Homo sapiens: one gene and its partner. Each later gene encodes a partner of the first gene's protein in a complex. Each region holds a gene or a part of one and is shown in the gene's direction. Other genes may lie near its edges. The genes, in order: THOC1 and SARNP.

Evidence for each region.
Region 2: THOC1 (region 1) and SARNP share a complex: the UniProt entries of both Homo sapiens proteins name them as parts of the transcription/export (TREX) complex.

What each region holds. Positions count from the first base shown.
Region 1 is NC_000018.10:264,999-272,286, reverse strand, and holds the start of THOC1 (THO complex subunit 1), read left to right. Parts: upstream 1-4,239; 5' UTR 4,240-4,267; coding exon 4,268-4,321; intron 4,322-6,756; coding exon 6,757-6,830; intron 6,831-6,923; coding exon 6,924-6,984; intron 6,985-7,288. UniProt on the Homo sapiens protein: Component of the THO subcomplex of the TREX complex which is thought to couple mRNA transcription, processing and nuclear export, and which specifically associates with spliced mRNA and not with unspliced pre-mRNA.
Region 2 is NC_000012.12:55,793,650-55,800,926, reverse strand, and holds part of SARNP (SAP domain-containing ribonucleoprotein), read left to right. Parts: intron 1-26; coding exon 27-73; intron 74-297; coding exon 298-365; intron 366-4,850; coding exon 4,851-4,902; intron 4,903-6,046; coding exon 6,047-6,120; intron 6,121-6,539; coding exon 6,540-6,568; intron 6,569-7,277. UniProt on the Homo sapiens protein: Binds both single-stranded and double-stranded DNA with higher affinity for the single-stranded form. Specifically binds to scaffold/matrix attachment region DNA. Also binds single-stranded RNA. Enhances RNA unwinding activity of DDX39A.

The sequences.
Region 1 (7,288 bases):
AAAATTGCCACTATGCTATAAAAATACAGCCTCCCTACATAGCTTTCATGAAAATTACTCTTTTTCCAAGAAAATTTAAGCTCTAGAGTATAAAGGGCCGTCCTTTTCCTTTTTTTTTTTGAGATAGAGTCACACTCTGTCACCCAGGCTAGAGTGCAGTAGCACGATCTCTGCTCACTGAAACCTCCACCTCCCACGTTCCAGCGCTTCTCCTGCCTCAGCCTTCTGGGTAGCTAGGATTACAGGCGCGGCCAACACACCCAGCTAATTTTTTGTATTTTTAGTAGAGATAGGGTTACACCATCTTGGTCAGGCTGGTCTCAAACTCCTGGCCTCAAGTGATCCACCCACCTTGGCCTCCCAAAGTGCTGGGATTACAGGTGTGACTCACTGTGCCCGGCCATTTTTTTCATTTTTATTCTTCTCAGTTCCATTCCTCTCACAATGCAGGAGTCTCATTCTTTTTATTCAACTTTGCCACTCAAACATCAGTTCCCTTTAAATAAATATAATTATTTCAATCCACTTAAACTACAAATGAGAGAAAGGGAGAGATGGCTGGGGCCCAAATGCTGAAAAAGGCAAACCTGCAATCCAACATCCTAATGTGGCCGACCAGTAAGCATGGAGCAAAAAGCTTCCTTCTGCCTAGACAATAGTCAGGATAAGAACTAGAAGAAAAGCAGATTAAACTGCATCCTTAGTCCTTTCCTCCCAGATCTTACCATTCCAATGGTAAACTGAACTCAAGTAAGGCCACACTAAGGAAAAAAAAGAGGAATGAAGATGTGAATGCCTAGAACTGATCTAAACCATCCATCCTAGATTCTCCCATGCAAGTTATTTCCTAACAGAGAGGCAGTCCTTCGTCCATCTTACTTCACCAGCTAGCATGAGGAAAAACAGGTGCTCAGTAAATATAAGTGAAAAGGTTACATGTTCCTGGATGTCTGCCCTCTGGATGTTATTACCCACTTAAAAACAAACAAACAAACAAACAAAAAAACAAAAAACAAAAAACTCTTTTTTTTTTTTTTTTTTTTTGAGATGGAGTTTTGCTCTTGTTGCCCAGGCTGGAGTGCAATGGCAGGATCTTGGCTCGCTGAAACCTCCGCCTCCCGGGTTCAAGCGATTCTCCTGACTCAGCCTCCCGAGTAGCTGGGATTACAGGTGCCTGCCACCATGCCTGGCTGATTTTTGTATTTTTAGTAGAGATGGGGTTTCACCATATTGGCCAGGCTGGTCTCAAACTCCCGACCTCAGGTGATCCAGCTGGCTCGGCCTCCCAAAGTAGTGGGATTACAGGCGTGAGCCACCGCACCGGGCCTATGTTTTGTTATTAATGACACTATGGTCCTCGCCCTTATCCAATTGTAAGGAAATAATTTCTGAAACATTGAATAGGCCCATGGTAAAGATTCAAGAGTTAAGACTTAAGAAAAATACAGGCTTTGGGATGACAGCTAGGCTCAAATTCCAAACTTAGCTTTCTCTAGCCATGTGACTTACAGCCAATGAGGCTGTATACTCATTAATATATAACTAAGTAAAAAATTGTTGTAAGGACTAGAAGCAATATAAGAAAAGTGCCAGGTCAGGCACAGTGGCTCATGCCTGTAATCCCAGCACTTTGGGAGGCCGAGGCAGGACCACTTGAGCCCAGGAATTCAAGACCAGCCTAGGCAACATAGCAAAACCCTGTCTTACAAAAATAAAAAAATTAGCTGAGCTTGGTGGCACATGCCTCTAGTCCCAGCTACTTGGGAAATGGAGGCAGGAGGATCATTTGAGCCCAGGAGTTTGAGGATACAGTCAGCTATGATCAAACCACTACACTCCAGTCTGGATGACAGAATGAGACCCTGTCTCTTAAGAAAAGAAAAAAATGTACTTGCCTCTGAGGTCTTAGTTGTGTTCCAGATGGTTAATAGTCATCTGTAATATGATAATCCTATTACAACAATTAGTATCAGATAAACAAAGTATAATTCTGAATTAAATCATTTTTATTTTGCCAATTTGTAAATTTAATGTATACAACCAAACCTGAATGATCTTGCTGATTCTTAAAAAGCCTGTAACATTTCAGGTAGTCATTATTGTTCACAATTCCCACTTAGGAGTAAGATTCTGCAGTTATCTTTTCCTTAGCTTCCTGTATTCTTATTGTGCATGTTAACTAAAAAATCATAAGATCTATAGATTTAGAAAAGGAGAGACTTTGTTTCTTATAAGGAGTTACAGCCTGCAAGGTGGCCATTCTGCAGGCTGGGAAGCATGCCTCCAGCCAAGACCACATACAGACACTTCAGAGGAGGAGTTGGAGTAGGAACTTTATGCTTAACTGGTTGGCTAAACATACATATTCAACAAGTTAGAGGAGCGGCTATGAATATTCATGAAAGTGGTCTTGACACATGCATATTAAACAAATATGCATGTTTAACAGACAATCCATGTTCACTTTGGGGTGGAGACTTAACATTTAAATGTATTTACAGTTTGGTCCTATACATCAAAATATCTTTTCAGGAAGTTACGTAAGCATGCAATCACTACAAATTGGCCAGAACAAGTCCATGGTCAGTGACCTTCTTATCAGGAGAAAGTAACTGAAATCAATAAAAGCTGTAGTTACGGCTGGTGGGAGAGGGTTGTTAGTGTCTGGTGGTCGATGAACTGCAAATTGTTTTAATACTGTGAGGCCAGCGCTTGTTTAGCTGCTAAAGAAAAACCTTGAAGCATAGTGAGAACATAGTTTATTTTTCAAGCGTAGGGATGCATGACTTTTAACCCTTGCTTGGCATGGGCTTAGGTCCTGTTTATACTTTGGTATCTTATTGCCATGGAGTCAATTCCGTCAGTCCTATCATCTCCGTTTTTTTTTTTGAAACAGAGTTTCACTCTTGTCGCCCAGGCTGGAGTGCAATGGCACGATCTCCGCTCACTGCAACCTCCGCCTGCCGGGTTCAAACCATTCTCCTGCCTCGGCCTCCTGAGTAGCTGGGATTACAGGTGCGTGCCACCACGCCCGGCTAATTTTTGTATTTTTAGTAGAGACAGCGTTTCACCATGTTTGCCATACCTCAGGTGATCCACTCCTGACCTCAGGTGACCCACCTGCTTCGGCGTCCCAAAGTGCTGGGATTACAGGCGTAAGCCACCGCGCCTGGCCTCTATTTTAACTTTATGGCCAGTCAGCTATCTCCTCTAAATCACAAAAGGGAGAGGGTATAACCAGGTCCGTCTGACCTCCCATCCCGTTATGACTGGGAACTCAGTTGTTAAGATTTTGCTGGTGTCCCCTTGGCCTCACGGGGGTCTGTTCAGTTGTTGGGGGGCTTAGGATTTTAAATTTACAGACTTCGAAGAAGGGAACAAGATACACGTGTGAGGGAATAAGAGGAAGTTACCCGAGTCTGAGTCAGTGCTTCCTTCTCCACCGTGTAACTCCAACTTAGAGTTACTGCCACTCGGCTTCTATCGGCCACGTCTCTCCTGGGAAGGCAGGCAAGGGACGAAATGGAGGGAGACAAGGTTTTCGCTAGGGAAGCCTCGGCCCAGGACGCAGCGCCACCCGTTTTCCAATCAGCGCCGGGCACTGCATTCCTCCTAGGTCTCTTTCTTTCAGTAGAGACCTTTTAATAATAAATACTACTTACATTGCTTTACAGTTCACACTTGCGGTCATTATTTCAGTGGAGCTTTTCAACAGCTCTGTGAGACAGGTATTATTTCTATTTCGGAGCAGAGAGAACAGCGCCCTTGAGCCACAGGGCTCATACATCCGGAGCCTATCACCACTCCGCATCTTAAGCTCCCGGGATGACCGCGGACTGGCGGCCCAGGACCACTGCTCCAGCTGTTTCCCCAGGTAATCCACCTGCCTTGGGTTACCTTTTAGCGCGGCCCAGTTAGCCGCAACCAGCCACCATTTACCCGCTTTCCCCAAACCAGGAAAACCACAGAAACGCATGTGCGCGGCCAGTCTCTTCCACGCCCGGGAACGCAGAGCTTACAGACCAAGGCCGCCCAAGTCCCCTCACCCCAAAGGCTACCCAAGAACCCCGAGTAGGCTGTTTGGCTGACTCAGGCGCCCAACGCCCACCCGAACTGAGTCGCTAGGGAAACTCCCAACTGCCAGCTCGCCCGACCGGTGTTCACAGGCCACTCTAGCCGGGCTCAGAGAGACCGCAGTCTCGTTGCTCCTGGCTTGACGTCATCGGCAGGCGCCGCAGCGCAGTGGCGGGCACGCGCAGCCGAGAAGATGTCTCCGACGCCGCCGCTCTTCAGTTTGCCCGAAGCGCGGACGCGGTTTACGGTGAGCTGTAGAGGGGAGGGTGCAGGCCTGACCCGGCGCTATGCTTTGTCCTCTTCTCCCTGAAATTACTCGAATTTTGCCCTGGGGTAAAGTGAGACAGAGGTGTGTCCGCCTCAGCGTCCGCTCCGGGCCCCGTCGGAGGTTGAGGGGTAGGGAAAGACGCACTACCCGCCTCTTCTTTGTGGGCTGGGCCGTCCGCCTCCGCCCACCCTCCAGCGGGTCCCCGGACTGCGTGCTGGGCGCCTCGGCTCCCCGCTTGGAGTGCCCACCTGCAGACTACTGCTGGTTGGGTCCATCCTCTCAGCTCGTTTAGTGGGGCAGGTGTCTCGAGAAGGGGAAGGGGAGCTGCTGAAGGGGGAGGGTGGGAGTGGTTTCAGTCCAAAGACCTGGCTCCCGCCCTAGCCTTCTGAGCTACCAAGTGCTTGTTCCCGCCGTCTCTTCACCACCCCTTAACCCACCGTGTCTAACTCCTAAGCGATCGATGAGATCCTAAGCGGGAAAAGGCAGATAGATCACCTTGGGAAGGGTAACCAGATGCTATTTTATTCTTGCTCAATGTGGAAGGGTGGTTTTGAGCATTTGGGAAACACTTGACAGATCACTTTCTCATTTAACTATTAGAGTAACACTGTGAAGTAGGCTAAGTTGGTTATTCCTGGTACATGAGGTAGAAGCTGACACCCCCCAAAAAGTTGTGACTTCAGTGGTTTTTCTGACTTTAGACACTCTGTTCTTTTTATGTTGCTCGTCACAGCAACGTAAGTATGAAGAACACTTTTAAGTTGCCTGACTCTATTCGTCTCTAGCATTTGCACCAACATTTCTCAGATATTCGGCTGTGTTTTGGTAGTTATAGGGATGCCAGGATGAAAATTGTGTGAAAGAAAAATTCATCCTTTGTAGTAAGTAGTTTTCTTGTTTGCAGGGTTATATATATATATATATACATATATATACGTATACGTATAATATATATATACACACACACACAGTGTGAGGTTTTTTTTAAATGGATTATATTTTGTGTATGTCATCATAATCATTTTCTTTGTGTGCGTTTTGCTGCAATCTCTGGTGCTTTGAAAGCCTGCTAAGAGTAACTGTTAGGACTATCCAAGATCATATTGGCGGCCGGGCGCAGTGGCTCACGCCTGTAAATGCAGTACTTCGGGAGGCCGAGGCGGGCGGATCACCTGAGGTCAAGAGTTCAAGGCCAGCCTGGCCAACATGGCAAAGCCCCGTCTCTACTAAAAATACGAAAATTAGCCAGGCGTGGTGGTGGGCGCTGTAATCCCATCTACTTGGGAGGCTGAGGCAGGAGAATCGCTTGAACCCGGACAGCGGAGGTTGCAGTGAGCCAAGATCATGCCAGTGCACAACACCTGGGCAACAGAGGGAGACTCCATCTCAAAAAAAAAAAAAAAAATCATACTAGCCCTGAAAAGGACCATGAAATTGGAGATCATCTAGTTCAGTGTTTCTCAAGCTTCTTGTGAAATGCAGATTCTTGTTCAGTAAGTGTGGAAGGGAGCCTGAGATTTTGCATTTCTACCAGCTTCCTAGGTGATGCCACTGTAGCTGCTGCTGGTAGTAAAAATCTACAAAAACCCTCTTATTTAACTGGTGACGAAAATGAAGCACAAAGAGATAAAGGAACAGGCCCCAAATTACTCAGCCTGTTAGTGGCAGAGCAAGGAATGGACACATTTAGGATAGATCTAATTCCTGTGAGGTAATAAGATGACTTTCTAAGTGTATGTGAGTGTTCATAGAATGAATGCCTTTTGCAATATTTTTGTCTTTAAGTTATGATTACTTTAAAACAATCTACAGATTGTCAGCATGGTTTTATTGAGTGCTACGTGTCAGGGACTGAACAAGATACCTCCAGGAGGCGAGACCTGACATGGGTGTGGGAGAATGGATAGAATTTGGATGAGCAGGTAGGAAGAGCAACATGAATGTGTGAATACAGTAGAATGAGTTTGATATAAAGTGATGAAAAATGGCTAGACTTTAGTGCAAAGTATGTGTTAGGGAGTATTGGGAATTAAGTTTGGGTAAATTGGGATAACATTATCAAGGACCTTGAGGGATCTATGAAGCTTCAAAACTAAAACGGGCAAATAAGGAGCCATATGGAGATTTTTTTTTTTTGTAAGCACAATACTCATGAATGTGATATTTAAAGAGACAGAAATATCACCTAGAATGAAAAAGTCCAGCAAGGAAGCTCTTGCCAGATTTAAAGTGATGAGGATCCGTATCATGAAGTAGCATTGGAATAAGGATTACTGAGAGAATGACTGATAGGTAATTTTTCCCAGGTATAAGCATTTTTTAGTTAGTAAGATACACTATCAATGAACGATATATTTTTCAGCAAATAATAAGCAAAATCTTTACAATTATTTGCCATTTTAATTTTTTTTTAGAAGTCTACCAGAGAGGCCTTGAACAACAAAAACATCAAGCCATTGTTAAGTACCTTCAGCCAGGTACCTGGCAGGTAAGGCATTGATATCTATGAAAAATACTTGCCTCAATCTTTATACATACCCTGAGCTGTTTGAAAAATGAGGATGTCTTTTGTTTTTAATAGTGAAAATGAAAAAAAATGTACCCTTGACCAAGCTTTCAGAGGTATTCTAGAAGAAGAAATTGTAAGTATGTTTTTCCATTGTTAAAATTTTACTGACAAATTAATAAACCATGTTATTTAAAAATTGCTTTTTTTCTTAGAATGGATATTTAAACATCTTTTTTTAGAGTAACCTTTCTGCTTTGTAAAAGTTGACTTGATGACTATACGATTTCTCTAAGGATTTTGATAGCACAGGTACATTTTAAGGGTTTGGTTTAATAAATGACAAGAGCCCTCTCCAAGTGAGATAAGAAAAGTTGACATGAGGTCTTAGGAAGAACTAGAGGTGAAGGTGGGCTCTCTCACTTTCCTGTATAAGCAGT
Region 2 (7,277 bases), on another chromosome or scaffold:
GACCTGAATATTTTAATATTCTTTAGCTGAAGAGGAGGCAAATGAAGAAGATGTACTGGGAGATGAAACAGAGGTGAGTTGGATAGAGTAAGGTTAGTCTCTGGTAATGTGCCACTGCTTTGGCCACATTGCTTTAACATCAGTCATTGGAGGACTTAGATGTAAATTTATTAGGGGAGCATAAGATGGGTATGAAGGTTCTGAGAGACTGGTTTATTTTGGAGTTCTGATGTTCTTCTTTTGATAGATATTTATTCTTTAGATTTATGTTAACCACCTTGTTTCATTTGGTTTTAGGAAGAAGAAACAAAGCCCATTGAGCTCCCTGTCAAAGAGGAAGAACCCCCTGAAAAAACTGTTGATGTGTAATTATCCCTTTTTTATAATCTGAGTACAGAGCAGGCAGCTCTTTTCTTAATGTATTTAATGTTTAACTTTGTTTACCTCTTACATGTTCCCATTGGCCTTTTCCTTTCTGATTAGGTCATTTTTTTGTTTTTTAGAAGGGACTACTTCAAAGTACTTGGTCCCAGTGAAGTAAAGCAAATTGTCTCTGAGTTATGTAATAGGTAATGAGGACCAGGTGACTTCAAGACCAGACATAGTTTAATTCTCCTAGCCTTTGTTGTTCTTTTGTAGGGTCACCATAATAGATTATTCTGTTACTCTATAGAGAATCTGTACAATTCTGTATGCAGTGTAAAACTGTGTAAACTCTGTTAACTTTTTTTTTTTTGAGACAGGATCTCACTCTGTTGCCCAGACTGGAGTGCAGTGGCGTGATCTTGGCTCACCGTAACTTCTGCTTCCCAGGCTCAAGCAATTCTCCTGCCTCAGCCTCCCGAGTAGCTGGGATTATAGGTGTGTGCCACTACTGCCCGACTGATTTTTGTATTTTTAGTAGAGACAGGGTTTTACCATGTTGGCCAGGCTGGTTTTGAACTCCTGACCTCAAATGATCCGTCTGCCTTGGCGTCCCAAAGTGCTGGGATTACAGGTGTGAGCCACCGTGCCCGGCCCATTCTGTTAACTGTTCATAAGAGTTTTGCACTTTTCTGGAAAAGTGTAAAACTGAGGCCAGGCACGGTGGCACACACTTGTAATCCCAGCACTTTGGGAGGCCGAGGTGGGTGGATTACGAGGTCAGGAGTTCAAGACCAGCCTGGCCAAGATGGTGAAACCCTGTCTCTTCTAAAAATACAAAAATTAGTTGGGCGTGGTGGAGGGCACCTGTAATTCCAGCTACTTGGGAGGCTGAGGCAGGAGAATTGCTTGAACCTGGGAGGTGGAGGTTGCAGTGAGCCGAGACTGTGGCACTGCACTCCAGCCTGGGAGCCACAGCTGTCTCGGGAAAAAAAAAAAAAAAAGTGTGACACTCTATATAAAGGAGTTTTGTAAGGGAGGAGGGTGTTGGGTAGAGGTTATGTTTCTGAAGTAGCACTCTGTTCTCTCTTGCTTTCTGATTTACAGTGGAGGATGGGAGGACAAAGTGCTAGAATGGAAAGTAGATCTTGATTTGTTTAAACTGTTCCACAAGGGTGATCCTAAACATCTTTAATTTGGGGCTTTTTCCACAAATGTCTGGCCATTTTGTACTATAGTACATTAAGAGCCGTTGAGTCCTAAACTTTGAACATTTTTGTTCCTCATAGTTGTGTTAGTGCATTTAATTATAAAAGGCAGTGTATTTACAAGTAAAAAGTCAGTACATAGTGGAGTATATCAATTAAGAATTAAGTACTCTTTGTATCCATTCTCAGATCTGACTTTACTGAGGTTTTTAGAACAGTACATACTTTTGGAAGATTTTATATATGGGGTCTGTACATGTGTATATGTATGTATGTGTATATATAGATACACGTATACACACACTGTGCACACTTGATTTTTTTTCACATCTGGAAATTTTTTATATCATCATTTTCTTATGTAAGTGTTAGTTATATGCTAGGCATTGTTCTTAAGAGTTATATGCTAGGCATTGTTCTGAATGTTTTACATGTACTGTCATTTTATCCTCAGTAGACCCTGTAAAGTCAGGATAATTATCCTAGGAAGTGGTCTCTTTTTGTTTAGCTTATTATGGGAAATTACAAGTATATACAAAAGTTCGACTAGTGTAATAGACTCTCATCTACCTATCACCCAGATTTACTAGTTATCAACTTAGAACCTTGTTCTTTCTAGCATTTAATAGTATTGCATTCTATGGATAAACAGTAATTTATTTCACCAGTCTTCTGTTGATGGACATTTAGATTATTCATTAAAAAAAAATGTAGTTCTGCATGTCCTTTTCTAATTATTTATACTCACAAGTATACCCACAGGGTAAATTCCTAGCAGTGGATTTGCTGCATCACAGAGGATGTACATTTAACATCTTGATAGATTTTTGTCAAATATCCCTTTATTTATTTATTTTTGAGACAGGGACTCACTCCGTTGTCCAGGCTGGAGTGCAGTGGCACAATCTTGGCTCACTGCAACCTCCGTTTCCCGGCTCAAGCAGTCCTCCAGCTTCAGCCTCCTGAGTAGCTGGAACTACAGGCACGAGCCACTACACCCAGCTCTTTTTTTGTATTTTTTGTAGAGATGGGGTTTCGCCGTGTTTGCCAGGCTGGTCTCAAACTCTTGAGCTCAAAGCGATCCACCTGCCTTGGCCTCCCAAAGTGCTGGGATTACAGGTGTGAGCCAGTAATCACCTGCCTATCAAATACTACTTTCCAGCCTATCAAATACTACTTTCTAAAGCCATTTAGTTATCTTTCCATCATAAGATGTTTATAATTAGATATAGTGCCTTGAAAAAATGACTTTGTGAGATAGCTTTAAAATAGAAATGTTATGGGGATTTCTGGAACAAGAAAGAAGATCAAGTGAATACCATGATAATTGGCTTCTGTGGGTTAAAAAATAGAGGTTCGAAAGTTTGAAGTTCATTATTCATAGAATATTTAAAATGTGCATTCTGTTCAGGGGGCTTTAATTCTATTAATGAATTTTGAAACAAGGAAATTGAAGTGGGTGGGGTGATCGTTTTTGATTTTTAGAGGATAGTTGTGGTTAGACTGAAGTATGTACAAAAAGATTCTGGGTCTCTGTATTTCAGGGAATGTTGTTTATGTGATTGGGTAGGAGAGAAATTTCTCAGTGAAGAGTGGAAATTTCCCATGCATCCCAGAATTCGATGTTTATTTATTGCGCTTGAGTTTAGTTGCCTAAGGGAATTGTAATAGAATGGAAGGAAACTTCCCGTCTGGGGTTCCCTTTCTGCCATGATGTGCACTGCATTGACTGTGCTTCAGAATGGTAATGGGGAGGAAGTCATTACACTGGGGTTGATGGAGAGTACTACTTTCTTGATGGCATTGGATTTCAAGTAAAACATTAAACTTTAGCCTTTTGTGCCTAAATTATAAGACAAGGTTAGGGAAGGATGGCAAGGAAATGGGAAGCGTTTAGAAATTTCTTTAAACGTCAGAATAGCCAGGGCTAGTTTAGATTCCTTGACTATTTAAAAGGAGATCCCCTTCTTCATGTTTGGCCTGAAGTTCTCCAAAAATATACCTGTTTCTAGTTTGATTCCCAACCCCCAACCAGCTAAAGCGGTTACATATCGTAGGACTTCGTTATAGTCAGCAGGGGGCACCCATTGCTTGTCTTCAGTCCAGGGATTTCCAATAAAAGGGTGGAAGAGAGTAAGTTCTTATTCCAGAATTGCTTCCTCTGAAAATGTCATTAAACCATTACTACCTTTCAGGGCATCAAATGGGAAAAGTGTTCAGGATATTGGAACAAAAGCTGCCCATGTCTCTAAATGAGGGACCTTAATGAGACTGGTTATGACCCACAGTTTTATGGGAGTTGTTTGGTGGAGGGTTAATGCCCTTCCATTTATCGTGGGTACTTCCGAACTTTGTCTCCCGCCCCTGTGGTCCCCCCTCTTTTGTTTCCTCTTAAACCTTTGACCACTAGCTTACCATGTTTTCCTAATTCAAACTCCCCTTAGACTTTTTTCTTCCTACCTTCTTTGGCATTTTTATTTGTTTCACTTTGACTGTTCCAGCTAGAGCTACATTCCCCATGGGAGAAATAAGGGATTTTTAAAAGAAGGAAACCAGACCTTGTAGAGTACTTATTAATTGTTGTGATGAACATTGGGAGGTGGTACTTAAAGGAGGATTGGAGGGTTACTCATTAGTTCAAAAGTAAATTAAAGGCTGGGCTCGGTGGCTGATGCCTGTAATCCCAGTACTTTGGGAGGCCGAGGTGGGTGGATCACTTGAGGCCAGGAGTTCGTGACTAGCCTGGCCAACATGGTGAAACCCTATCTCTACTAAAAATACAAAAATTAGCTCGGCGTGGTGGCAGGTGCCTGTAATTCCAGCTACTCAGGAGGTTGAGGCAGGAGAATCTCTTGAACCCAGGAGGTGGAGGTTGCAGTGAGCTGAGATCGTGCCATTGCACTCCAGCCTGGGCGACAAGAGCAAAACTCCGTCTCAGAAAAATAAAAGTAAATTGAAAAGTTCCTAAAAGCAAATGAGATGGTTTCTGGTGTCCTTTGAGTGTTTCCCTTCAGCCCAGTATATTTAACCAGACTTCTTTCCTTATTTCTTTATTATACTTTAGCTAAAGAAGCTTAGTTTGTTATTTGAACTCTTTCCTCTCAATAGATGACAGTTAAAGGAACCAAAGCTCTAGTGGACTTCATGTTTCTTTGGCTTAGGGGGTGGCAGAGAGATAATAGGGCAGAGAATGGTGACTCAGGTGAATTCTTACACATTTCTGAGGTTGTGGTTTAGAATATCAGTTTTCTCATTTTAAAAAATCTCTTTCTTTTCTAGGGCAGCAGAGAAGAAAGTGGTGAAAATTACATCTGAAATACCACAGACTGAGGTAGGTATTCTGCTCCCTAGTAGAACAGTCTCTACATTTCTCTCTCCCTCTTACCCTTTATTATATCTGCATCATCCTCTAAAATTTATTCACAGGCAGAAAATCAGTATTGGCAGATTTTGGTGTTGATACGTTTCACTGCCAGCTACTCTTTGGAAAATATTTGGCTGGCGTAGGGGTAGTCATTCTTGAAGTTGTAGTCTTTTTATATGTAATATTATGGTCTTAACAGTGACTCTCTTTGAGATGTTTTCAAACCTAGGATTAGATTTAGGAGGATTGTACCTTGAAAATGTATTGGTAGATGTGACTCTTATGTTGCTACTGGCCAGTAGCTGAGATTGAAATTTCTCTGGTTTCTGTGGTGCAGGACTGTGAAACCAGGTTCCATTTGAGATCTTGTGTTCAGTATCATACTTGCAAAGTAGAGAATTATTAAACTCTTTTAGAATGGCATAAAACAATGCTGCCTCATTTCTAACTGAAAGAATACCATTGGTGTTGGAACCAAGCTATTCCTTTGATCACTTTTCAAAGGTCAGCCAAACATAGCTTTTGACTTCTTGGCTTCATGCATAATGTAGGTTTTACTTTATTTCTCCCTTTTGTTTTTGAGGGCATCTAGTAATAGTCTTTTTTTGTTTGCTTTGTGGGAAGGGCCGTTAAGTCCTAGCATGGACACAACCTGATATCTTCTAGGATTGTCAGTATTTTCAGTTTAGACCCTAAGAAATTACTTCTGATGTTTTTAAGATACCTACCTTTGGCTGGGCCAGGTGGCTCACGCTTGTAATCCCAGCAGTTTAGGAGGCTGAGGTGGGCAGTTCACTTGAGGCCAGGAGTTCAATATCAGCCTGGCCATCATGGTGAAATCTCATTTCTACTAAAAGCACAAAAATTAGCTGGGCACAGTGGCACAGTCCTGTAATCCCAGCTACTCAGGAGGCTGAGCCACGAGAATCGCTCGAACCCAGGAGGCTGAGGTTGCAGTGAGCCGAGATCATGCCACTGCACTCCAGGCTGGGGGACAGAGTGAGACTCTTTTTTTTTTTTTTTTTTTTTTTTTTAAAGATACCTACCTCTGACTGACTTTCTTAAACCATAAATTGACTTTTTTTTCTCCCTTTTGTCTATTTTTACTTAGAGAATGCAGAAGAGGGCTGAACGATTCAATGTACCTGTGAGCTTGGAGAGTAAGAAAGCTGCTCGGGCAGCTAGGTGAGTGTCCCCAGCCTTTTGGGCCTCTGATAGGGGTGTTGTAAAGATGAAGATGTGTGATCCTAGCTTTTAGGTATAATTGTTGATTTTAAGTAGAATAGAGGCTTGCTGAAGGATATGAACACTTTTTTGACCCTATTCAGAACATGTCTACTGATTTGGTTATAGTAGCTATAAATTGAGCTTTATTGAGAAGGGTTTTTGTAACAGTTAAAGCCAGGAACTGACTACTACTAATTCTGATAAGGCTTCCTTTTAGCTTAATTTCTGAACCTCTTTCATGGGGTTGTTAGAATTAGCTAATGATTGCAAGGCTTGAGATCACAAGCAAGAAGTGTCATATGTATACTTGACACGGAGACAGACAAACCAGGAGTGTGAACAGCTTCCTAAAATTTAGTTTGTTTTTCCTTCTTCAGGTTTGGGATTTCTTCAGTTCCAACAAAAGGTAAGAGTACAGAGATACTTCTGAGAAAGTTACCTTTTTATTCTTTCTTTTCTGGTATAACAGGTTTTATTTCTCCAAAATAAGGTAAATTTGCTAGCTGTAGAAACTCTTTAAGAGATTGTAACATTCATCTCCTGCTTTAGGTAAAATTATACTTAGGCCTTCCTGGGCAATTAAGAGAGATACTGAATGTTATGAGAGGATAGGAAGTGCCAACATTTGTCTGTCTTTTCTTGAACATCTTCAAAGAAGTTTCTCTAGTACTTTGCTTACTTATTCTGGGGTCTCAACTGCATAAAATTATTGCATACTATCTAGTGTTATACTGGCTATTATAAGTGATAAAAGGGAAAAGAATATCTTCTACCTTAACAGTTTTACTTCTAGGAACGTATAAGGAAATAGTCTTGAATGTGCATAAAGACTTAGCCTCAGGGATTATCACAGCATTATTTATAGTGATCAATAACTGGAAACAACCAACTGTACAACAGAGAATTAGTTATTAAATGTGTGCCATGGTATAGCAGACTACTGTGCTGAAATAATATTGAAAGATATTTATCAGAGATATTAATGAAAAAAGTTACAAAATTATATTAACAGTACGTTCCCATTTTAGTCATGTAAGAGTGCATGTATAGATAGGAAAAAAGCTTGGAAGGATACATAGTAGACACTTCAGCAAGGTTTGAACTGCACAGGTCCA